7 linked regions of the Homo sapiens genome follow. The protein of the gene in region 6 purifies or fractionates together with the protein of the main gene of each other region. This does not show direct contact. Each region holds a gene or a part of one and is shown on either strand. Other genes may lie near its edges. The genes, in order: PRKG1, ARPC1A, PPP1R9A, MYO6, RANBP10, CORO2B and CUEDC1.

Evidence for each region.
Region 1: the proteins of CORO2B (region 6) and PRKG1 purify together in Homo sapiens (affinity purification with mass spectrometry; 2 studies listed by BioGRID and IntAct, with this or other methods). This does not show direct contact.
Region 2: the proteins of CORO2B (region 6) and ARPC1A purify together in Homo sapiens (co-immunoprecipitation; one large-scale study listed by IntAct). This does not show direct contact.
Region 3: the proteins of CORO2B (region 6) and PPP1R9A purify together in Homo sapiens (co-immunoprecipitation; one large-scale study listed by IntAct). This does not show direct contact.
Region 4: the proteins of CORO2B (region 6) and MYO6 purify together in Homo sapiens (co-immunoprecipitation; one large-scale study listed by IntAct). This does not show direct contact.
Region 5: the proteins of CORO2B (region 6) and RANBP10 purify together in Homo sapiens (co-immunoprecipitation; one large-scale study listed by IntAct). This does not show direct contact.
Region 7: the proteins of CORO2B (region 6) and CUEDC1 purify together in Homo sapiens (co-immunoprecipitation; one large-scale study listed by IntAct). This does not show direct contact.

Annotation. Positions count from the first base shown.
Region 1 is NC_000010.11:52,270,987-52,274,486, reverse strand, and holds part of PRKG1 (cGMP-dependent protein kinase 1), read right to left. Parts: intron 3,138-3,500; coding exon 2,998-3,137; intron 2,096-2,997; coding exon 2,006-2,095; intron 1-2,005. UniProt on the Homo sapiens protein: Serine/threonine protein kinase that acts as a key mediator of the nitric oxide (NO)/cGMP signaling pathway. GMP binding activates PRKG1, which phosphorylates serines and threonines on many cellular proteins.
Region 2 is NC_000007.14:99,346,398-99,349,897, reverse strand, and holds part of ARPC1A (actin-related protein 2/3 complex subunit 1A), read right to left. Parts: intron 1,047-3,500; coding exon 939-1,046; intron 1-938. UniProt on the Homo sapiens protein: Probably functions as a component of the Arp2/3 complex which is involved in regulation of actin polymerization and together with an activating nucleation-promoting factor (NPF) mediates the formation of branched actin networks.
Region 3 is NC_000007.14:95,288,594-95,292,093, reverse strand, and holds part of PPP1R9A (neurabin-1), read right to left. Parts: coding exon 3,376-3,500; intron 2,004-3,375; coding exon 1,791-2,003; 3' UTR 1-1,790. UniProt on the Homo sapiens protein: Binds to actin filaments (F-actin) and shows cross-linking activity. Binds along the sides of the F-actin. May be involved in neurite formation. Inhibits protein phosphatase 1-alpha activity.
Region 4 is NC_000006.12:75,752,239-75,755,738, forward strand, and holds part of MYO6 (unconventional myosin-VI), read left to right. Parts: intron 1-3,500. UniProt on the Homo sapiens protein: Myosins are actin-based motor molecules with ATPase activity. Unconventional myosins serve in intracellular movements. Myosin 6 is a reverse-direction motor protein that moves towards the minus-end of actin filaments.
Region 5 is NC_000016.10:67,730,061-67,733,560, reverse strand, and holds part of RANBP10 (ran-binding protein 10), read left to right. Parts: intron 1-1,976; coding exon 1,977-2,089; intron 2,090-3,500. UniProt on the Homo sapiens protein: May act as an adapter protein to couple membrane receptors to intracellular signaling pathways.
Region 6 is NC_000015.10:68,585,493-68,588,992, reverse strand, and holds part of CORO2B (coronin-2B), read right to left. Parts: intron 1-3,500. UniProt on the Homo sapiens protein: May play a role in the reorganization of neuronal actin structure.
Region 7 is NC_000017.11:57,882,413-57,885,912, reverse strand, and holds part of CUEDC1 (CUE domain-containing protein 1), read left to right. Parts: intron 1-33; 5' UTR 34-348; coding exon 349-684; exon of another isoform or gene 685-741; intron 742-3,500.

The sequences.
Region 1 (3,500 bases), on a different chromosome or scaffold from region 6:
GATGGAATACTACACAGCCATAAAAAGGAATGAATTAACAGCATTTGCAGGGAACTGGATGAAATTGGAGACTATTATTCTAAATGAAGTAATTCAAGAATGGAAAACCAAACATCACATGTTCTCACTGATATGTGGGAGCTAAGCTATGAGGATACAAAGGCATACGAATGATGCAATGGGCTTTGGGGATTTGGGGGGAAGAGTCGGAGGGGGGTGAGGGATAGAAGACTACAAATATGGTGCAGTACATACTGCTTGCGTGATGGGTACACCAAAATCTCACAAATCACCACTAAAGAACTTACTCGTAACCAAATATGACCTGTACCCCAATAACTTATGAAAAAATAAAAAAATAATAAGCTATAAGAGGGATAGCTGGGCTCTCCCTTTGTGGCTTATTATTGCTTTCATGTTTAATTCCACCTGTAAATCTTCTTCTATTCTAATTAGAAAAAAAAGTAGAAGACTTCAAATAAATCAGTGAATTGAAATATCAAGTCAAATATAATACAGTAGAAACACATTAGATATGCCAAATGTTAACTCACAGATTAAAATATTAACTTTGTGCCACAAACTATACATTCTGAGGAGAGAGACCCCATCTGTTTTGTTTATTACTGGATCCCCAGCCTCTATCACAATGCCTGGTATATAATCTCTATGTACATATTAACTAGCAATAATACATAATATATACACTATGATATAATAGCTTAGTATAGATGTTAACCTTATCGCCTAATGCCAACATGATTACATTCCCTTTTATGCTTTTTTAACCTTAAATTTAAGAATTGAAATAAAATACCGATGCAATAGGATACAATGTGGTAACAAGAAATCCATTTGGCATATATAAGAAAGGCCATGGGAATAACACGAAAGGGCCTGTTGTACAAAGATATGAAGGTACCATAAGAACACCATTAGGAATGAGAATTTAAATCAACAGTTCATAAGGAACCACTTGTTTTATTCTGGGGTATCTGCAAAGTAACAAATATAAAAACATTACATGGTTATATACATCAGGGCTACCTATAGCTAAGTTTCAGAAGGATGCTACCCTGTGAAGGAGAGTCTGGGAGGCAGGACTCAAACAAATAAGAAAAATACAGATGTCTAAATGTGAGTGTTCAAAAGAACAAAGATGACTTTTGTATGATCAATAAATCATTCATGGAAAATAATCAAAAGATTATTCATAGGAAAATAAAAGTGTGTTTTTAAAAAAACACAGGGTAGATAATGATCTCCTGAGACATTTTATAGGATAAATTATATTAGAAGATAATTAGATAATTTGCTAGTTATCTAAATATGAGATGGAAAATTAAGACAATGAATTTGCATGATTAGAACAAACAAGCACCATGTAGACAAACTTTCCTTGCCCTGGAAGGGTAAGAAGGTAAATCTAAATCAGATAATTTACATGAAATATTGCTTATAAGTGGATTCTTTTCTTTTTCCTAAGACTAGCCAAGGGATAAAGAGATGGCTGGAAACTTTTGTTAATTTTGAAACCAAAGAGCCATGTAAAGGTAGAGGGAAAAATTACTTTGGAAAAAATTCACAATGTCACAAAAGGCAAACTGCCTATCTGGAAAAAGAGTAGAGCAATTAAACTGATAGTTAATTCAAATTATAATTATAAAATAACTATAATTCTCTTTCTGCTAAAGCAATGAATTGAATTCCAGCTACAGAGCTAATTCTAACATTCATGCAAAACTAAGGCCATGTATATATTTTGCTATGTACCATTTTTATGATCGACTAAGCCTGTATTGTTAGTTACAAAGTGAGTTTTGTTATATGTACAGTAAATCATATGTGTATAGTGGGTTATGCCCTGTGCTTACTTTAAATATTGAAATATAAGCATGTGTAAATTATAAATATGATTATTATACTTTATCATATTAACTCTTCTTATAGACCAACATGGGCAACTGTTTTTAGAGATATCATAGAAATTTCTTAAATCTCCTACCTATCCCTGAGAATGGTCCAGAGCTCTCCACCTAGACAAGCTTCCATCAACATATACAAATATTTGCTGTCCTTAAATGTTCTGTACAGTCTGTAAATTGCAAACAAGAAAACAAAGATTATAAACATTACTGTCTTTTACAAGTGTGCAATTTTGGGGGGCCCAGATTATAGTTTTGATTTGCCAAGCTCAAAATTTTGTCAGAATGAGAGAGATCTAAGCCCACACATGGGGAAAAGAAGCCAATGGCTCATGAATAGGATTTTAATAGAAGAAACTAAGGCGCTAATCTCTCCCTTGAAATGGATTAATCATAATGATTATGGACAAAGAGGGTTTCTTGGGATTCTTTCCATTCCAATTTGGGTAATGTTTTGAGCATAGACCCTTGGGGCAACATTTAGTGGTCATCAACATGCAGTGAAAATGGGAATAAAGTGGATTAAACTTTACAGATTCAGACATGTATAAATTTCATATGCTATTCGCTCAAATTCATGTTACATCTTGTTTTCAGTAAATGCCACTGGAAAATTCACTACAAAAAGCTGCTTCCACATATAAAAATCTCCCCATTATCCATTTATTAGTACTGAGGTGGAATGGTCAGCTGTCATTTCATTTTTTTAGATCTTCAAAAAATATTCAGATAATTAAAGGTTAAATAGTTTGATTTTGGATATTTTGTCTTTTAAGCATCAAAGGTCTATGTAGAGTTTGGGGATTTAAAAAAAGATAAAAATGGAATGTTAGAAACTCTGGTACCTCCTTTGGGAAAACACATTGTTTTCAGACACTAATTCTCTTTAAAAGAAAGAATAGAGTCAGAACTTTATTTTTAGAAATCAAACAAAACTTTCTTAAGATTAGATTAAAAAGAAGTTTCTTTGTGCATACGAAATGTGTTAACAGTGAGCACAAGTGGCAGAGGGTTTTGTGGTGGATTTGTCACTTGGAGTTGGGTACGTCTGTCCCTGGCATGGAGCCTTTACCTCACTATGAAATCGGAATGAGCCCCCTGCATGATCTGCTTCTCTGAGCGGATGTGCTCCTGCTGTCTTGTGTCCACAATGTGACGTTTCTTGAGAATCTTCATTGCAAACGTTTTGGATTCTTCACTTTTCAACTGGACCTTAAAGAAAGAGAGAAGAGAGTAAGAAAAAGCCCATAGACTTGTAAGAGTGCATTATTATCCCCAAATTAACAGGTACATGGCGCACTTAAATGAACCTCAGCCACCTCCCAAGTCAAAACACAGTAAATCCTTGGTAGAGCTGCGTTTAACATCCAGGGCTCACAGCTATCATCCAATCTCATGCTCTGAATTGGCTGAATTTTAACTAACTTGATTCCAAATTAATTGTGTTCACGTGTGGATTAGAAGAGGGAAAATGTACTTAGTTCTAGTTTTATTATTTCATGTCATAGAGTGTGTTTGAATACATTTTATAGTTCTTCTGTCAAAAGAGTAGAAAAAAAACTTCTTTTCCAATTT
Region 2 (3,500 bases), on a different chromosome or scaffold from region 6:
CTGGGATTACAGGCATTTGTGACCACACCAGGCTAACTTTTATTTATTTATTTATTTTGAGACAGAGTCTCGCTCTGTCGCCCAGGCTGGAGTGCAGTGGTGTGATCTCGGCTCACTGCAAGCTCCGCCTCCCGAGTTCACACCATTCTCCTGCCTCAGCCTCCCGAGTAGCTGGGACTACAGGCACCCGCCACCACGCCCGGCTAATTTTTTGTATTTTTTTAGTAGAGACGGGGTTTCACTGTGTTAGCCAGGATGGTCTCGATCTCCTGACCTTGTGATCCGCCCACCTCAGCCTCCCAAAGTGCTGGGATTACGGGCGTGAGCTACTGCGCCCGGCCTCTTTTGTATTTTTAGTAGACACGGGGTTTCACCATGTTGGCCAAGTTGGTCTTGAACTTCCAACCTCAGGTGATCCGCCCACCTCAGCCTCCCAAAGTGCTGGGATTACAGGTGTGAGCCACAGCACCAGGCCTCATTTTTGAGTCCCTCACAGTGCCTAGCGCAGTACCTTGCAAAGAAAAGGAAACTTACAGGCCAGGCACACTGGCTCATGCCTGTAATCCCAGCACTTCAGGAGGCCAAGGAGGGAGGATCACTTGAGGCCAGGAGTTCAAGACCAACCTGGGCAATGTAGCAAGACCCCGTCTCTACAAAGAATAAAGACAATTTTAAAAAAATTAGCCAGGTGTGGTGGCATATACCTGTAGTCCCAACTACTCTGGAGGCTGAGGCTGGAGGATCGCTTGAGCCCAGGAATTGGAGGCTGCAGTGAGCTATGATGGTGCCACTGCACTCCAGCCTGGGTGAGAGTGAGACCCTGTCTCAAAACAACAACAACCACAACAAAACAAAAAACAAAGAAAGAGAACCTAAAATTATTTGTTGAAGGATGAAGAATGCACGGCTCAAGTTTATCAGTTCTCACTGGTTCCCACCTGCATTTGAAGTCACATGATCCTGCTGCCAGCAAAACGTTGTTGGGATGCCAATCCAAGCTGAGGACTGTGGAGCGAATCGGCTTTTTAATGTGCTTGCTCACCCACCTATGAGAGGGGAAAACTGTTTCAGTTTATCCACTCAACCAGCATCCCCAAATGACCTACAAATGTATGTCAGGTGAAAATACCTAAGTAGGCCACACTTTTCCTTAATTTAAAAAAAAATTATAAAACAATTCAGAATATTATTTTTTTCAGAATAAACTTTTTCAGATAGGTTTCTATAAAAAAAGATTCTATAGAAAAGTAACAGAGCATTCAACGTTCTTCTGTCGGTCACCAGGCCTTCTGCCAGAGACAAGGTTTTTTGATACCAGGTTATGATCTGAGACTGGCTAATTTTTGTATTTTTTGTAGAGATGAGATTTCTCCATGTTGCCCAGGCTGGTCTCAAACTCTGGGGCTCAAGTGATCTACCGGCCTCAGCCTCCCAAAGTGCTGGGATTACAGGCATGAGCCACTACGCCCAGCTGACAAGGTGCATTGCTAAAGGACAGAAAGGAAAAGAACCATGAACAGGCCTTCTCCACTCCTGGCCCTGATGTTCTCAGCACAACAGCTGGTTTTCAGCAGTCCTCATTAGTAAGCATAGATATTGATTAACTCAGTTATGTTTTCGTGAGATTTCGGATTACATAGGACGTTAACCTCTGAGATAAAAACTGAAGTTTGAAAATACTTCAATTTTTATTATGAATATTCAGTGATTTGCTGAATTTTTGGTGAATTTGGGGTTGTAAGACAGCTTAATATCCTTCCCAAGTCTCCACGAATCTGCAAATTCTTTTTAATTTCTTTCACTGAAAAATCACAACCAAGAAATTAGAAGAACCTCATGTTGGGGATTAGCCTCTAATTCGCTAGCACCATCCAAAAAAGATGATTTATGTCTAGGACCAGTCAGTATTTTGGCTTAACTAATTCATTTCTGCCCCCAAACTGCTGTTTAAAAACCAATCACGTCTGGTTGCTCAACAGTTGGGAGACTAAATATTGAGCCAATGCCTTTCCTTCAATGCTAAATTACCTTTCTATAGAATCACTTTCTTTCTTTTTTTTTTTTTTTTGAGATGGAGTTTCGCTCTTGTTGTCCAGGCTGGAGTGCAATGGCGTGATCTCAGCTCACCGCAACCTCCACCTCCCGGGGTCAAGCAAGAATCACTTTCTTTTATTTATTTATTTTTTATTTTTTTGAGACAGAGTCTTACTCTGTCATCCAGGCTGGAGTGCAGTGGCGCAATGTCAGCTCACTGCAACCTCTGCCTCCTGTGTTCAAGCAATTCTTGTGCCTCAGCCTCCCGATAGCTGGGATTATAGGCTCACGCCACCACGCCCGGCTAATTTTTGTAATTTTAGAGGAGATTAGCTTTCACCATGTTGGCCAGGCTGGTCTCAAACTCCTGGTCTCAGGTGATCTGCCTGCCTTAGCCTCCCAAAGTGCTAGGATTACAGGCATGAGCCACCACGCCTGGCTACAGAATCACTTTCTTAGTATCCTGTCTGAAGAAGTTCATTCTGAAAAAGACAGCCAGGTGCAGAGGCTTGCAACTATACTCCCAGCACTTTGGAAGACCAAAGCAGAAGGATTGCTTGAGTACAGGAATTTGAGATCAGCCTGGGCAAGAAAAGTGAGAACCTGTCTCCACAAGTAATCAAAAAATTAGCCAGGTGTGGTGGTGCAAACCTGTAGTCCCAACTACTTGGGAGGCTGAAGTGGCAAGACTGCTGGATCCCAGGAGTTGGAGACTGCAGTGAGCCGTGTTTGTACCACTGTACTCCAGACTGGGTGACAGAGAGAAACCCTGTCTCAAAAAATAAATAAATAAATAAAATAAAAAACCAAAATCCCCCACAAAGTCTCTAAAAAAGGAGAAAAAGACAGTATTTCGAATTGTTTCATAATGTATACATATTTTTTGAGACAGAGTCTTGCTCTGTTGCCCAGGCTGGAGTGCAGTGGCATGGTCTCGGCTCATTGCAACCTCTACCTCCCTGGTTCAAGCGATTCTCCTGCCTCAGACTCCCAAGTAGCTGGGATTATAGGCATGCACCACCACACCTGGCTAATATTTTGTATTTTTAGTAGAGATGGGGTTTCTCCATGTTGGCCAGGATGGTTTCGAACTCTTGACTTCGTGATCCGCCTGCCTTGGCCTCGCAAAGTGCTGGGATTGCAGGCGTGAGCTACCGTGCCTGGCCTTTATAATGTAATTTTTTTAATTAAGGAAAAGATGGCAAGCAAAATAATTAGTTCATATGGCTGAATTATAAACTTCTGAGAAGTTGTTTTAAAGTACTCCTATGAAATATGAAATAATTGTTCTACAGCTGAGAAACTGCCCTAAACATACAGCTTGTTCAAAGACAATACCTTGTACCATAATAAAGTCCAATTTACCTATACTTGACACTAATTCTCAACGAATAAAAATGTAAACAATTACTGAGGTTGAAGCTTAACTTGGAAGAAAAGTTTCCTGTAGAAATTTGTAAGATTGC
Region 3 (3,500 bases), on a different chromosome or scaffold from region 6:
ATGTCAACGTTTCTGAGGATTGAATGAAGGGTCTGTACCTAATGACAAAAGAGCTGACGCATAACCGACAATACTCTGGCAATGAAAAGAAAACAGGCCTTGGGGGTAAAACAGAATTAAAAATGTCCAGTTTAGATAATTTCTGAATTCAGATTTTCAGATAAAAAAAAATCACACTGTTATTAAAATACAAGATGGGGCTACAAGGGAGTTCCCTTAATCTGTTACACTCAAAAGCCTTGCCGAGGCTCTAAATATGGAATACTTCTAGTGGAAGATACGAGATGCTGGGAACAGAGCAGAGATTCCCATAAAGTAAAAGAAGTAAAATACTGTCCAAGAATTCATGTGGCCTCAAGTCTTATTCTGAAACTTGTCCTTTGGAAAGTGGATAACCTCATTTTTAGAGTCAACGCAGCAAAGAGAACCAGATACATGAGCATAAAAAACAAAAAACCCTCATCACATGAAATTTCTCAAAACGAGTTTATTTTCTCCTTCTTCTGCCCCAGTCTCCTGCACTTGACTTAGTTTGGTGAAACATGGAAATCCTTAATGCTGGCTTAAAATTAGTATAAGTTCCTCCACTACTAAAGTATACCTATGCACTGCCTTAAACAAACTTTTTCTGTAAAATTGAGAATCTTTGAAGTATGGAAAGGAATGGTTCGGAAAAACCATTCAAAATCTCTCTAAAATGTTAACTGACAGTTTCCTCTAACTGGTATTTCTATTTTTCTTAAAAGTACATTTGTTAAAATACTAACTGAGCCCACCTGGGAAATCTTGAGTAGAAAATATGTGATGAGTTCCTGATTGTGACATAGGCAGGCTGAAGACCAGCCAGAATGTTCCCCAGGAGAGGAAACCTGAAAATGGTGGTTTCCTTAAAAATCAATTTCCTGTTCAATTTCTTGGGTTAGGTAGGGGGAAGAGGAACTGTGTTGTGTTTGCCAGTGTTGCTGAAATGCTGAACACACAGCAGTAGCAAGGTCAACAGATCCCAATATCCCATGGCTGCATTAATGTCTGATTTTTTTCTTTCTTGTTCAGCCGTATCTAGAGGATAAATATTACCCTCAGAACCCCAAGGTAATACCCACATCCACATTCTTAAGGCTTTTGCTTTTTTCAGTGGTTAACAAATAGCTATAATTTATTTTCTTTCTTTTTGATGCCTAGCAAGCAGAATGACTTGCTTGCCTTTTCCCTTAGTAGGTAACTACAGAGCAGAGCACCCATGTTTCCACAGCGGGGTGGTCTCACTGTCCAGACTGAGAATTAAGAGCAAATCTTTCCCACACATTGGAGTAGGTGTTGCAGTCCTAGAAGTTAAGTACTGGTCTCAGATCTCATGGCAGGGTGCTCTCTGCCATGCAGACATGTGCAATTGCCATTTCAGGATCCCACACTGAAAATTCACGGCGCTCCATTAACAACACCAGGGTGTGTCATGCTCTTGGGTGGGGTCACACTAGTTCTCCAAGTGACAAAACACACCCAACACAACACAAGATGTTGGTAAGTTAGAGAAGAGCAAAACACAGCTACTTAAATGAAATCTCTGGTTTGTTAATGAACCAAAGGTGGCTTGGGATTATTTTAGTAGTTAAAATTAAGAGTGCATTCTATTGCAGAAAATGCAGTTATTCAACACACAGTTCCTCAGCCGGCCTAGAGCCGCATTACCCTTATCATTTAGTTTCTTTTTCATCCTCTGGAGGAGAGCAGGGCAGGAAGAGGTGGGGACTTCTCTTGGAGCATCTCCATCATCTGTAAGAGGGTATGTGTTACTGCTCACCAGCACCCTCGGCTGTAGTTGACGTCATCTTTTCTGTCTTTTTGGACTTCCTCTGCATTTGCTCTTGCTCCTTTCTCCTTAGCTTTTCTCTTTGTTTTTCCATTTTCTCTTGGGCCTTCCGAGCCTTCTCTAGAGACATCTTCATTTCCTTGAGTTTCTTTTTGACCACTGCTCGGTCCTGGGATGCTGTCATTCCAAGAGCCTAAGAAAGAAACACACACACAAACTGAATTTGAAAACCAATGAGCCCTCTGATGGTGTTAACATACCATATATCCAAGTTCGTAAACTAATTCAAACATTGAAGAGGTAAGAACAGAGGAAGAACTAGTTACATTTGCTAAAAACCAACACACTGGGGGCTACCCTTTATTTTTTCTTTTGTTCTTTGAAGTCCCTTGCAAAGTATACCCTAAAGCTCATTAATTAAATGCTTTCCAAATGAGTAATTAATGGGTGAATGAATGGAAAAAGGGCACAATTCTACTTCTCCAACCTTTGGGCTGTAGGCATTTACGGGTAAAGGTATTGCTAAACTCATCAATATTTTCAAAGCATAGGAGTGAGCACCTGCTGTCACAGAGGGCTCCAAGAAGGGCAAGAAGAATTGAAATGGCTTCCTTTCTGCCAATGTTTTCATTACAATGAGAACCAAAAATGTCTTTGGGGCCAGAATGCTCGTGTCAGCATGACTAGCCATTCTTTCCCTGTAGGCAGACCTATAAAGGAAGTTGATTATAATGAGGAGGTTGCTCGATGAACTTAGAATTCAGAATAAGGGGAGTTGCTTATGTACTTTAAATGTTTCGTGACCTTCAGAATCAACAGCAGGATGCATCTATCTATCTCCCCAACAGGGACAGCCTTGTCAATGAGGCCTTCATATTCACAAGCTATTGATTGATCTCTAACCTTTTCAAGATTGTCAAGAGATACTCGTCTGCCCGTCAGCCCAGCAGGGGGCTGAGGCGGGGGTGGGGCTTGGGGGTACATGGAGTTGGCTGTAAGCACCTTTTTCCCTTTCCCAAAGGGATGGATGCCACCTTGGTCTCTAAGAGAGATGGACTGGACAAGTGGAAATGAAAGTGCCATGGAGGGGAGGGAAGATGTGTGTACATATTTGGGGAAAAAACTTCTGGGGAGAACATCATCCCAGTTTGGGAGTGGTGTGTAAGGAAGAGTGGAGGTGAAGGAGAAATGAACAAGGAAAAGAAGACTCGTGGATCTGGGTCTTAATTCTAATGTGATGAAAAAGTCCACAGTGGCCATTATTAAAACTCATACTACATCAGATGTAAGGAGAGTTAATATATGGACCATGTGTTGCCAGGTGGAAGCAATGGAGTGGGTCCCTCACTCTCCTAATCAGCAGCCTACCATTTGATTTGGAACCCCTGATGGACTTTCTGAGACTTCATTTACTACTCAGAAAGAATTCAACATCCTTTCTGCTGAATATTGATGAGAATTACCTCTCAGATATGCAGAATGCTCTTACCTAATGAAAACATTTTAGGTGATATGAGTAATACAAATTATACCTGGTAACCTAAGACAGACATATAATTCTTTACCTTAAGTTTATTTCCATCCAACTGCAGGAGCTGTTCTCCAGTGATGTTTTGGGCACTGAATTCAGATACATACTGCTCCAGATTTAGGCTCATTAACCAGTGAGAAACCTGCTGCACACTCCATT
Region 4 (3,500 bases), on a different chromosome or scaffold from region 6:
GCCTTGGCCTCCCAAAGTGCTGGGATTGCAGTTTCATAGAGTTTAATTATGATACCCATAATGAGATATTTCATAATAATTTGTGAACTGGCCCTTTACTAGTATAAGATTGTTGCACATTTATTAGGCATCTTCCATAATTGGACAGATCACAGATTGAGGGGCTTGATCTACAAAATAATTTTCTAGGCTAATGGTCTTGTCCTTTTACAGATGAGGGAGTCTAGTCTCAAAGAATTAAATGCTTGCTCCAGAAGGGCAAAGTCTGGATTCACACCTGAGTCATTTGACCACGAAGCCCCTGTTTTTTCCACCAGAACAGTTTGCCTTGGTTTCAGTTCACTTGGTGGACTGTTTAAACCGGCAAAACTGGTATTATGTCAAAGAATGTAATTCAAGGTTTGACAAAAGCATCCAGGAGTAGATATGATAGGCCGTGAATGTAGTTCTGGAACAAATTTAGAATCCTGTGTTTGTGTCTTCATTCTCAAGTTGACAGCCTTGAACACTGATGCTGCTGCTTTCTCATTTCTCGTATAGTTCTAGGACATTATATGTATTGTGCATGTATGTATGCTGTTAAACATATGTATGTGTTTAACTTTGATAGGTTTGTGAGAACTAGAATTAGATTGTAATGTTCCTGGTTGGGATAGAACTTTAAAATTTTCCTCTAATGAAAAAGATAATTATTTATGCAGTAGCTATCCTTTAAATATTACATAATTAATTCTCTAATCTTGAGAGGGGGGACTCGTTTTTAGATTATGATTAAATTGTCACTTAGAAACTATTAGTACAAATCTTTTCTATGGTCTGTGGAATATCCCTTGAGCCGCAATAGACATAAATGACAACAGTGAGCAAATAAGCCCATTTTTTCTGGTAACAAACTAGGAATCATGCATTTCAGCAGTAGGATGTAGTTGGGTAAATGAGCAGAAGCAAGGTAGGAAGGCTGAGTTGGGTGGCTACCATTACGGATTTTTTTCATTATTTGCTTTGAACTATTAGGAATTGTGCATCTCAAGGATATTCATATTCAACTGTAAATACAAAACCACCACCTAATATAAATTAGTAATATTACTAATATAAATTGGTAATAGATCTGTGACACACACATCAAGAAGTAGAGTTAAATAAGCTTAAGTTCTCTTTTGGAGGCATTATATCTATATGCATGTATCTATGATCTATATATGTGTGTGTGTGTGTATATATATATATATATATATATATGTTTTTTGGAGACAGAGTCTCATTCATGCCACATGCAGTGGCATGATCTCGGCTTACTGCAACCTCCATCTCCCAGGCTCAAGTGACACTCCCACCTCAGTCTCCGGAGTAGCTGGGACCACAGGTGTATGTCACCATGCCTGGCTAACTTTTTTGTGTTTCTGGTGGAGAGGGGTTTTGCCATGTTGCCCAGGCTGGTCTTGAACTCCTGAGCTCAGATAGTGTGCTGCCTCGGGCTCCCAAAGTACTGGGATTACAGGCATGAGCTACCGTGCCTTGCCGGCATTATATAATGTTCAGAGGAACCAGGATCTTTTCATTTAAAATGGTTCTGATTTTATTTGACAAATTTGAGTGGACTAGAATCTTTAAATATTTTGCAACGTCTTTCTAGTTACTGTTTTCAAAAATTAGCTTATTTTTCTTATTGATTAGTGTAAGAATGACATAATGGTTTGAGAAATGACCATAAGTCCACCAAAAGTTTTCCCTGTGAGTACTGAAGCATAAAAAGTAAAACCTAAAGAAGAAATCTGGCATCTTTAGAAATCTTGCTGGTGCTAAAGAGAGAGGAAATAATTTTTTATACAGAAGGCATGTCTCAAGTGAAACCAAAACACCAAAGCACATTCCTTCAGTGTATATTCACATGGGGTAAATATGATGCTGAGTAATGTGCACAAAGGAAACTCTTGACAAAAACACAGTCATCTTTTGAGTATGTTAGGTCATTTGTTATTTCATTTGAAAATAACCTGGCTGGGGCGTGGTGGCTCACACCTGTAATCACAGCATTTTGGGAGGCCAAGGTGGGTGGATCACCTGAGGTCAGGAGTTCAGACCAGCCTGGGCAATGTGGTGAAACCCCATCTCTACTAAAAATACAAAAATTAGCTGGGTGTGGTGGTGGGTGCCTGTAATCCCAGCTACTTGGGAGGCCAAGGCATGAGAATCACTTGAACCTGGCAGGTGGAAGTTGCAGTGCACTGAGATTGGGCCACTGCAGTCCAGCCTGGACGATTGAGTGAGACTCCGTCTCAAAAAAAAAAAAAAAAAAAAAAAAAAAGTAAGCCGCTGACTAACCTTTACAAGGTAATATATTTTCTGTGGCAGAATTTTTTGATTTCTGATCTATGTGGATGAACATCTTTTTCAACAGATATTTACTGAGGGCCCACTGTGTTTTAGATATGACAAGTGTGAACTGATTCCTCCCTGTGCTGGCATATCTTTGGATCCAGGAAATAGGAAGAGTTGCAGAGATATGAAAAAATAAATAGAAACCATCCATTTGAAATCCAAAGACATATACGTCAAAAGCTAATAACTTATATTTGGATGGCATTTTATTGCTTTAAAATATTTTTGTATGCATTTGGTCCTTAAAACAACTTGATGAAGTAGATTTAGTAAATTTATTCCTTTTCTACAGGTAAGGAAATGGAGACTCAAAAAATTAAAAATACTGGCTGCATGTGGTGGCTCATGCCGGTAATCCCAGCACTTTGGGAGGCTGAGGTTGGGAGGATCACTTTAGCCCAGGAGTTTGAGAACAGCCTGGGCAACATGGTGAAACCCTTTCACAAAAAATATTATACAAAAATTAGCTGGGTGTGGTGGTGCACGCCTATAGTGCTAGCTGTGTAGGAGGCTGAGGTTGGAGGATCTCCTGAGCCCAAGAGGTCAAGGCTGCAGTGAGCTGTGATTGCACCACTGCACTCCAGTCTGGGTGACAGAGCAAGATCCCGTCTCTAAATAAATAAATACATTACTTAAAATTAAGTAACTTGTTCAAGGTCAATGTGGCTACTTAGAAGCATCATCTCTGTGTAGTCCCAAAGTAGTAAGTCCTCCACTTTCCCCCTATTGCTTATGTATTTAACCTCACATTATGGCTTCAAGTCAGGTGGTTCAGGAAGTTCTGAAAAATTAGGGTCACTAAAATGGTGATTATTAAATTGTTACAGGTTATTTTTTAATGGAAGATAGAAGATGAGCATGATGCATCATTATGGAACTACTTTAACATTTTAAATAGATTGCTAGACTGAAATTGGTAATTAGCTTTTCTAGTTGGAGAATTTTTAAAGAACAATTAGTTAAAAAAAGGAAGGAGAAAAATGTTCTGGGGGAATTTTGAAAATAACTTTTATTACTTTGTGCATTGGTAGTGATCCGATAGTTACAACTGTCTTTGTAAAGACTCACTAAAGAACTGTGTGTGCGTCTGTGTTGGTTCCTTTATGTCTTCATTTATT
Region 5 (3,500 bases), on a different chromosome or scaffold from region 6:
AATGGCTATGTTATCACAGAGACAAATTTGTCACAAGCCTTTTGGCTGGCTTCCTCTAGTGGAAGGTCAGGTAATTCCTTCTCTTTTACTTGTGTAGGTAACCCTCTTGTAGATAAAGACTTTTTCATATTTACCCTTGTGTTTATAATAATAATATGGTGTAATAATAATAATTATACTTACTTTACTTTTTTCTGAGTCAGGAGTTTACTCTATTGCCCAGGCGGAGTGCAGTGACACAGTCATGGCTCACTGCAGCATGGACCTCCTGAGCTCAAGCAATTCTTCTACCTCAGTCTCCTGAGTAGCTGGGACTGTAGGCATGCACCACCACACCTGGCTAATTTTTTGTATTTTTTGTGGGGACAGGGTTTCGCCATGTTGCCCAGGTTGGTCTCAAACTTCTGGGCTCAAGTGATTTTCCTGCCTCGGCCTCCCAAAGTGTTGAGATTACAGGCATGAGCCACCACACGCAGCCAATAATTTTTTTTTTTTTTTTTTTTTTTTGAGATGGAGTCTCGCTTTGTCGCCCAGGCTGTAGTGCAGTGGCGCAATCTCGGCTCACTGCAAGCTCCGCCTCCTGGGTTCAAGCCATTCTCCTGCCTCAGCCTCCTGAGTAGCTGGGACTACAGGTGCCCGCCACTACGCCCGGGCGTAATTTTTTTTTGTATTTTTTTAGTAGAGATGGCATTCCACCGCATTAGCCAGGATGGTCTTGATCTCCTGACCTTGTGATCCGCCCGCCTCAGCCTCCCAAAGTGCTGGGATTACAGGCATGAGCCACCACGCCTGGCCATATTTTTAAAGTAGAGATGAGATCTTGCAATGTTGGCCAGGCTGGTCTTGAACTCCTGGCCTCAAGTGATCCTCCCGCCTTGTCCTCCCAAAGTTCTGGGATGACAGTCATGAGCCATCACGCCCAGCTGATAATTATTATTTATACTATAATATTATGTAATATATCATTTCATAATAAGAAGTCTTATTTATGGACTTCTTCCTGCCAGGTACTTTATGTGTATTATCTCATTTACCCCTTAAAGCTTGAGGGAACACACACCCAAACTTCTGTGCCTTCCACCTGACAACCCTTCAGACATTTGTGTTTAGAGTTACAGTAATGACATCAGACACATGTACACACCAAGGTATTCACTCCTGTACACATCAGATTTGAGGGTTCAGCCTCTGCTTTATATGTGTACACACATGTGCCACTGTTCAGCCAGCTTCTGCTGGGGTTAAATGGCTACAGGGAGTCAGACTTCTCCAGACCATTTCCCAATGACTGTGTTCCCATTGGCCCTGCTGCTGCCTATCTCTGCCTGGCAAAATCAGCCTGATTGCTTGGCTTCTTGGGCCCCTGATTTGTGGTGTATCATGGTGTAACTCTGGGTTGTGAGTTAGCTTCCCATCACTCACTCACTAGAGCTGGAACTGCTGAGGGCAGGTTCACCTGGAGGGCTGAAATGCTTCTCTCAGGTACATGGCACAGCCTGCAGAGGGGCTCCTGTGTCTGTAGAAGGTGTGCATGTGGCATGCATCCTGTCTGGAAATCTGCCAGATTACCTGGCTAGCTGCAGTTTCGGGAAGCTATCAGTGAGACTATTGGCCTCTTAGGCTTGCTGCATTTCCCAAAGAGGCAGCCACCTGTGAGGAGTGTGCCTGTGTGTGTACTTCTGTTATCATACTCGCTTACTTGTGGGCAGCATGTCTCAGATAAACTGCAGCCACTCCTCTGAACTGTGGGCACAGATGTGGTGACCAGCCCCTCCGAAGCCTGACTTCATGACCGTGGGGCACCATGGGGGAAGTTTTCATTTTGTTTCAGCCCCTTTATTCTCATTCTGTGGAGGTTACACCTCCAGGACGTGTTTAGGGAGACCTCTGGGGGAGGTAATCTGTCCTGAGTCCATTGGGTAGTCAGTGAGAAGTGCAGTTCTTGAGTGTCACCTGAAGCTCTTCCTTTCTTCTAGCATGGTTTCATCTTACCTCGTGCATCATGGGTATTGTGCCACAGCCACGGCTTTTGCTCGAATGACTGAAACCCCGATTCAGGAAGAACAGGCGTCCATAAAGAACAGACAAAGTAAGGTTTATTCTACTTTCCCCTTTCCCTTCCTCACCTGTCCCTAACTCTGCTCTCTGGCTCATGTCAACCCTGGTTAACCTGTCAGGAGTCCATTCAGCTCTGGTCCTCATGACCAGCTTGCAGCTCGAGGCCATGTTCCTGTCCCACCTTCAAGATGGCACTGCCCAGATGGACAGTTGGCAGGATGGAGACGTCTCAGGGCAGCCTCCCTAATGCACATTCTGAAGGCTGGGCGCAGGCCAGGCCCTGGCATGGCTGGTTCCATTCCTCCATTTCCTCCCTGCTTGTTTCCTTCCCCCTGAATCCTGGATTCCTCTCAACCTCCTGTTCATGGTCTTCCAGGAAGGCTGTTTGCCTGCCTTAGTAGTTCTGCTTATTCCTAGCCAGAGAGGGGACTGAAGTGGTCAGATAGGGCAAAGCCAGTGCTCAATGGCTGCTGTGGGGGCACTACCCTCTGCTCCCCACCACTGGTCCTGCCCTTTGCAGACAACCTAAAGTCCTCCCTTGGCCAGAGCTCTCCCAGTGTTGATGCTGGCCTGGATGCTGTGTGTCTGGAGGCTCTTTCACGGAAGGAGGGGTGTTGGAAAAGAGGAAAAGGAGCCCAGTGAGGAGCTAGAAGGAGAAAAGGAGAATGAGGGCAAGTGGGTGTGGATATGCGTGTCTGTGAGTGCCTGCCTACCCCTCTCCAAGCCTGCTGTCTCTTCTGTATGTGCACGTGTCTGTCTCCCAGAGAAGCTGTGCTCAGCCAGACAGACGGAAAGGGATCCCAGACTTGGGATCTATGAATGAGAGCCTCAGACTCTGAAGTTGCTCCCAGCGAGATGCACCAGGCCCCACGGCAAGAGCGAAAAGGCAGCAGCAAGATGCTGATGGCGTGAGAGGTGTCAACATCAGAGGTGCCAGCATGAGGAGGATGGCCTCCTCTCCCAGCAGGGGGCATGCTGCAGCCCCTGAAGACCACCAGCCAGAGCCCTGGTCAGAAACCAGTGTGATTCCATTGCCATTCCCCTGTGAGGCCTGGAAGGAGAGGAGTCTGTCTGAAGAGGAGCCACTCAGGCCGCCAAGCTGCCTGGGTGCCCATCCCCAGATCATGTTGCCCCAGCTGGGGCCCTACCCTGCCCCCAGGTCCCTGGCACCATGTGCCCCGCAGGAGCAGACCTCCACATTTACCCTCCTGCCTTTGGGCTGAGAGTCTCCCCTCCATCTTCCCCATATTCTTGAGGACTCTCTGACACTTGGCAGAAACCAGGATCTGTTGGGCTGGGCAGTCAGGTTCTTTCTCCAGCCTCCTCTCCTGTGAGCATTTCAAGCTGGCGAGGCACTCTGAGCCGGACCCTACCCTGAGGCTGGCAGCATCCCAGGTGTGTGGCTGTGGGAGAGGCCTGTAGCCCTCGCTCACTGCTGTGTT
Region 6 (3,500 bases):
ATCAGTTGGCCACTCAGGTATGCAGAAATCCCCTTTCCCAGAATTCCAAATTTCTCGGAATCCCAAATTTCCCCATGCATTTTTGCAAGCTGGTCTTTCACCTGGAGGTCAGCAGGGCAGGCATAACCAGCAATTTTTCAGGAGTTAAATAAAAATCCTCAGGAATTAAATCCCTTTGTCCCCTTCCACCAACACCTTTCTTTCCATCAGCCGTTCCACGTCCTGGATTCTACCAGATTCCAGATTATAAAACTGTTAGTTCTGAAATCAAACTCAAGGTGTTTAAATGATTTGCTGCAAATGCCTCAAGCTAGTAGAGGCTATTCCTTTCCATAAACCTAAAGGAAAAGCAGGTCTGAGCGCTGGGGGCATCGGGAGGTATCTGGAGCAAAGATCAAGGTCATTTGACAGTGGGAACCTGGTCTTTCTGCCCAGGGACCCAGGTAGGACTGTGCTCTGGGACCCACCTTCCCTCGCCTTCCACAGGGAGCTCTGATCTACAGAGAGCCGGGATAATACAGATCAAGGTTTGGATGCTTTATTTGGCTCACTTTTCAAATGAAAGCAGGACACCACATTTTTATAGCCAGATTATTTGTCCCAAGCATATTAAAACAGCCAAAATAGACAGAACAGGAAGAGAGAAAAGCAACTTTTCATCTGCACCAAACTAGCCTGACAGAGTAAAAACAGATAGAGGCTGTTTGGAAGAGATGAACTTTTCTCTTCCACCCACAGAGTATGAATCAATTCTGAAATAAGGACTACAGCAGGGGAGAAGTGGGCTAGCTATTGGAAGGAACTGCCTAAATCTGAGGGCCTTGAAATACTGGTGAGGAAGAGGAAAGGAGTGGGCACAGATTAGACATCACAATAAACCATTTCCTGCCATGACATCTACAAAGCACCTTATTTACATCTTTCCATGTTACTTAAATATTAGAGCACCCTACAGAGATAGACTACTAACTTCATTTTCACAGACGCTCAGAGACATCCAGGGACTAGCCCAAGGTCACACAGTAAGGAGCAGAGGCAAGAGCGAGGCCTGGGTCTTCTGCCTCCAGGTCCCATGCTCTGGACCACATATTTCCGGGTCATTCCCACCAGCCTGACAAAGTGGCAAGACAGAAGGCCTGCGAGGCAGGCTGAGTCCCTGACTGGCTGTGGGAACACTGTAAAAGTTACCTCCCTTCCTTCCCTGGACCTCCATTTCTGCAACCATAGAAAGGGGGATAATAATAGCACAGACTTCATAGGCTGTCATGAAGCTTAAATGAATTAATACATATAAAACATATTGTATATGCTTGGCATAAACTAAGTGCTCCGGAAGGGTTAGCCGCTTCTATTATTATTGTTATTGTTATTGTCTGTTGGTCCCTTGAAAGCAGGGGCCTAGCACCTGGTGAAAGGCTGAGAACTGACTACTATTAAATTGGTATTTCTTAAACGAATCTAAATTAAAATTAGGAATCATTGTGATATTCCTAAAAAGTGTAGAGTGCCGTACAGGCAGAGTGCTGGCCCAGATGACCTCAGACATCTCCGGAGTTAAATACTGATCATGGAGGCTTCCCAGCAATTAGCATGAGCACCTACCCAGGGTGAGCCTCCACACACCACCGCTCTGGGCAGCCAGAGCCTCCAGGGGTGTTGACACTTATCTCATACAGGGGACAGTAAGTTTAAGCCTGTGGCATGAACACCATGTAAAACATCCACCTTCTCTGAGCTCGGACAGAGCAGACACCAAACTGCAGACACTTAGGGGGTTTTTTTTGTTTGTTTGTTTTAGAGATGGGGTCTCACTACGTTGCCCAGGATGATCTCCTGCCTCAGCCTCCTGAGTAGCTGGGACTATTGGTGTGGACTTTTAACACTTTAGAAAAAAATTGTGTGTGTGTGTGTGTGTGTGTGTGTGTGTGTGTGTGTGTGTGTGTATACATATCTCCCTATAGTTTGACTTTAAAGACCAAGGCCCAATATAGATAATAAGAAAGATTTAAAGAACAAAAATGGTCATAATTGAGCCCACTAAAAATATAAGGTGGAAAATTTCCTGCCAGAGCAAAGTTTCCTTTTGGAAAAATAAATGACTTCTCCCTCCTGCCTGAGAGCCAGGAGGGCCTCTGGCCACTTTACACAGCCCAAGGAGGCTCCGTGAGGCATCGGGGTAGGCAACTGAACTTGGCACTTCCACACCCCCTTGCCTGGGTCAGTTTTAGAAGCAGCCAGGGTCAGGCCACCCTCCCTATCACCAAGCAGCAGGCAGCGGGAAGGAAAGAGGCCAGAATCCGGAGGTCCGGGTCTGGACCAGCCTCATCCTGCCTCACTGGGCCACCTTTTACAGGTGACTTAGCTTCTCTGTGCCTGTGTCCTTATCTGTAAAGCAGGGATGATAACAGTAACCTATGCCATGATGTCACTCTGAGGATTAAATGAGTGGATACTTGTACCATGCTCTCATCAATGTCCAGCATGCAGGAAGTGATCAAGGTCCGTGGCTTTTGACTCCTGACGTTTGCCCATTCATCCCCGGCCTGTTGCTCCCTCCTCAGCTCCCCTCCTTTCACCTGCTACCTCCTACTCATCCTTCATGACTCAACTTAAAGTCACTTCCTCATCCCTCTGACTAGGTCAGGCCCCCTGCTATTCCCAGAGTTCCCTGTACTGCTCATTTCATAAGCCCCAGGACACTCATTAATTTTCTGTCTTCCTGAGAATAACAGCTAACACTACATGTCAGGCATATGGTAAGTGCTTCACATGGATCGGCTCACTTTATCTTAATAACAATCCTTAATAGTAAAGGATTGTTACTATTATCAATCCCAATGAATGGATGAGGAAACAGATGTTCAGAGAGGTGAGGCAACTTGCCCAAGAATACACAGCAAGTAAATGACAGACTGCCATGTGTTTGACTTCAAAGCCAGCATTCCTAGCCAGTGGAACCCCAAATCATCAGGGGCTAACTCGAGAAAAGGCTGCTTCGTAAGGGCTGCAGGCCTGGACCAGGGACCTGCGTTCTCTGAACCAAGCTAGCCTCATGGAAATGGAGAAGGCGGCTCTGCCTCTGTCATACTTTGTTCTGCCCTCGGCTGAATGCCCTACCCAAGCAGCCCAATCTGATGTCAAACACCATGTATAGGACACCCTCCTCCCCCAGCACCCTTCCCCGAATCATTTACATGACTCCTAGCTCCAGTAAAGACCACAGGCAAATCTAAGCAGGACACAACCATGGGCATCACCCTCAAGGCAACCAGCATTTGTCCTGCACATCCTCAGTGGCAGGGCCACAAACACAACAGACAATAGCCCACTGTGTTGTAGGTGGGGGGTTGGTGGGGAGTGGAAGCAGAGTACGATCATGCCCCAGGACCAAAGGCCTGGAAGTGAGATGAAAGTGTTCTCTGGAGTCAGACAGCCCAGGTACAAATCCCTGCTCCCCACCCATTCATTCAACCTGTGACCTTGAGCCGTTCACCTACTCT
Region 7 (3,500 bases), on a different chromosome or scaffold from region 6:
CCTCGGCCCTGACTCCATCTCTTTCGGTTTCAGGTGGGACCATCCGTGAAACCGGTGCCAGGATGCACCGGGGGTGTGGATGACCGGCCGCCCAGCCCCAGCACGGCCCGGTCCCGCATGCCACCGCCCCGCGAGGACCGCTCTCCAAGGGCTGCCTGGGGCCCCGCGCCCGTACTCTCCTAACCCGGAGCTCTTGGCAGCCCATTGCTGCCTGGCTACCCGGGGAGGAGGAGGCGCAGGAGTGAGCTGCCCGAGACCGCAGGGCAAGTAAGCGGCTGACGGCGGAAAGACCCTGGGGAAGGGGCTTTGCGGCCGGCTAGAAACATTTTCCCCAAGCGGCTCCGCAAAATGACCAGCCTGTTCCGCCGGAGCAGCAGCGGCAGCGGCGGGGGTGGCACCGCCGGGGCACGCGGGGGCGGGGGAGGCACGGCCGCCCCCCAGGAGCTCAACAACAGCCGGCCTGCCCGCCAGGTGCGCCGCCTGGAGTTCAACCAGGCCATGGACGACTTCAAGACCATGTTCCCCAACATGGATTACGACATCATCGAATGCGTGCTGCGCGCCAACAGCGGCGCTGTGGACGCCACCATCGACCAGCTGCTGCAGATGAACCTGGAGGGCGGTGGCAGCAGCGGCGGCGTCTATGAGGACAGCTCCGACTCGGAGGACAGCATCCCCCCGGAGGTAGGGGCGCAGCCCGGGTAATTCCAACCACCACTGGAGGACAGCATCCCCCCGGAGGTAGGGGCACGGCCCGGGTAATTCCAACCACCACTGGAACCTCTAAGAGGACCTGGGTTACTCCGCTATCTGGGTTCTAATTAGCAAGCAGCCTTACTTCCCCTAGGGAAAAGTACCATCCGTCAGTCACCTTATTTTATGGGCAGAAATCATGCAGTCATTCAACAAACACTGAGCGCCCACTCAGTGGTGTGCGAGACGTGGCACTAGACCCTGAGTCAGGAGGCATCAGAATCAAGGTGCTTGTTAAAAATGCAGGTGCCTGGGCCCCACCCCAACATACTGAACTCCACATCAGGCGTAGAGTCCGCTAGTGGCCAAGTCAGACCAAATTTCTGCCCTCCTGGAGCTCACAGTCCAGTGTGGACTAGAAGCGCGAGTCGGGTACTGACGGCCAGAGTGGTAAGTGCTCGATGGAGACGTGGAAGCAGCAGAAAGGAGTGACTTCCCAGAGGAAGCGATGGCTAAGCCGAAACCCTAAGCTGAGACCCAAAGGAAGAGTGAAGCCGGGGGAAGGGTGTGCAGGCAAAGGGAACAGCTTGTGCAGAGTCTGGGAGGTGAAATAGTGCCTCACTGGCTAGGGAACTGGCAGCAGGACCATCTGTCAGGGTCCTAGAGTGAGAGGAGATCAATGAGGTTGACAAAGCCCTGACGCTGAGAAAAAGAGTGCGGCTGGGGCCGGGCGAGGTGGCTCATGCCTGTAATCCCAGCACTTTGGGAGGCCGAGGCAGGTGGATCATGAGTTCAGGAGTTCGAGACCAGCCTGGCCAATATGGTGAAACCCCATCTCTACTAAAAATACAAAAATTAGCCAGGCGTGGTGGTGCGCACCTGTAGTCCCAGCTACTCGGGAGGCTGAGGCAGGAGAATCGCCTGAACCCGGGAGGCAGAGGTTGCAGTGAGCCGAGATCATGCCACTGCACTCCAGCCTGGGTGACAGAACAAGGCTCCGTCTCAAAAAAAAAAAAAAAAAAAAAAAGAAAAGAAAAAGAGTGCGGCTGTATCCTGGGAGCATAGCCACGGAAAGGGAGTGAGGAATCAGACTTGCCAGTTAAATCCCTCTGACTGTGGCCTGATGGAAACAGTAGTGAGCCATAGCCAAGCAGTCTCTCCAGGGAAGTGGCTGGAGAGAGGGGACCTGCGTACTGCATCAGTACCCACCTGCTGGAGGTTGTGAGTCCTTTCCAGTCCCACCCGAGTTCAGTGGACATCTGGCCACCCAGTATCAGCAGAGCCTGAGGTGCTTGGTGCAGAAGGATGAGGCACACAGAGCCTGTTAATCAGAGGGGTGTTGTCCACAGGGCCATCTGGGACATGCAGCCATGGACAAGACCAGGACCCAGCAGGATTTAACTCCACTCTTTATTGAGTCCCGACCCGTGCCAGGCATCATCCTAAGTGCTTTAGATGTATCATATCTTCTTTTTTTGTTTGTTTTTTTGTTTTTTTGAGACAGAGTCTTGCTCTGTCGCCCAGGCTGGAGTGCAATGGCGCGATCTTGGTTCACTGCAACCTCCACCTCCCAGGTTCAAGCGATTCTCCTGCCTCAGCCTCTCGAGTAGCTGGGACTACATGCATGTGCCATCATGACCGGCTAATTTTGTAGTTTTAGTAGAGATGGGGTTTCACCATGTTGGCCAGGCTGGTCTCGAACTCCTGACCTCAGGTGATCTGCCCGCCTCGGCCTCCCAAAGTATTGGGATTACAGGCATGAGCCACTGCACCTGGCCCGATGTGTCATCTCTTCTAATCCTCACAAACTTTGTGCTGTGGCATTATTATTACCCTTGTTCATCAGCCATCCTGCAGGGCAAAGTCTCCTTGCTTTTCCTCCTTAGTGGGTGCTGCTGAGACTTCCCCTAGAGGTGGAAAAGCTCTGTTGGCCAAGACATCTGGCTCATCCCTGTGTCATCTGCAGCACCCAGGACAATCCACGCACATAGCAAGCACTCAGGGAGTGTTTGTTGAATGAGTACGTGTTGCTGCTGTCTTTGTACAGTTTTCTATTGTCTCTCTCCTTGGGAGACCACTCCTTTGATCTGCTTGGAGTAGGTGGTGGAAGGAATATTGGAAAATATGGATCCTCTTTGTAGAAAGAAGGAGAGAGAGAGAGTGAGAGTATGCGTATGTATGTGTGTGTCTGCAGATACAGTTGACCATTGAACAATGCAGGGGTTAGGGGCAGTGAATCCTCCCCTTGCAGTCAAAAATCCACTTTTTAATATAACTTTTGATTTTCCCAGAAATTGACTGCTAATAGCCTATCGTTGACCTCAAGCCTTAACTCAAGCCTTAACATAAACAGTCGACTAACATATATTTTGTGTGTTGTATGTATCATATACTGTATTCCTACAATAAAGTAAGCTAGAGACAAGAAAATGTTAAGAAAATCATAAGCAAGACAAAATATATTTTCTACTCATTAAGTGGAAGTAGATCATCGTAAAGGGCTTCATCCTCATCTTCTCACATTGAGTAGGCTGAGGAGGAGGGACAGGAGGGGTTGGTTTTGCTGTCTCAGGGGTGGTGGAGGTGGAAGAAAATCTACCTATAAGTGGACCCACGCAGTTCAAACTCTTGTTATTTGAGAGTCAACTGTATATGCTTTAAGTGTGAACTGGAAGGAAAGCTCTCTGCAAGCTCTGACCCTTTCTGCAGTCTGATTTGCCCTGACAGTCTGGCAGGTAGGGTAGTATTTTCTCCTTTGTCCATGGCCCCCACAGTCCTATAGACCTCTGCAAGGCTTCACCACCCCC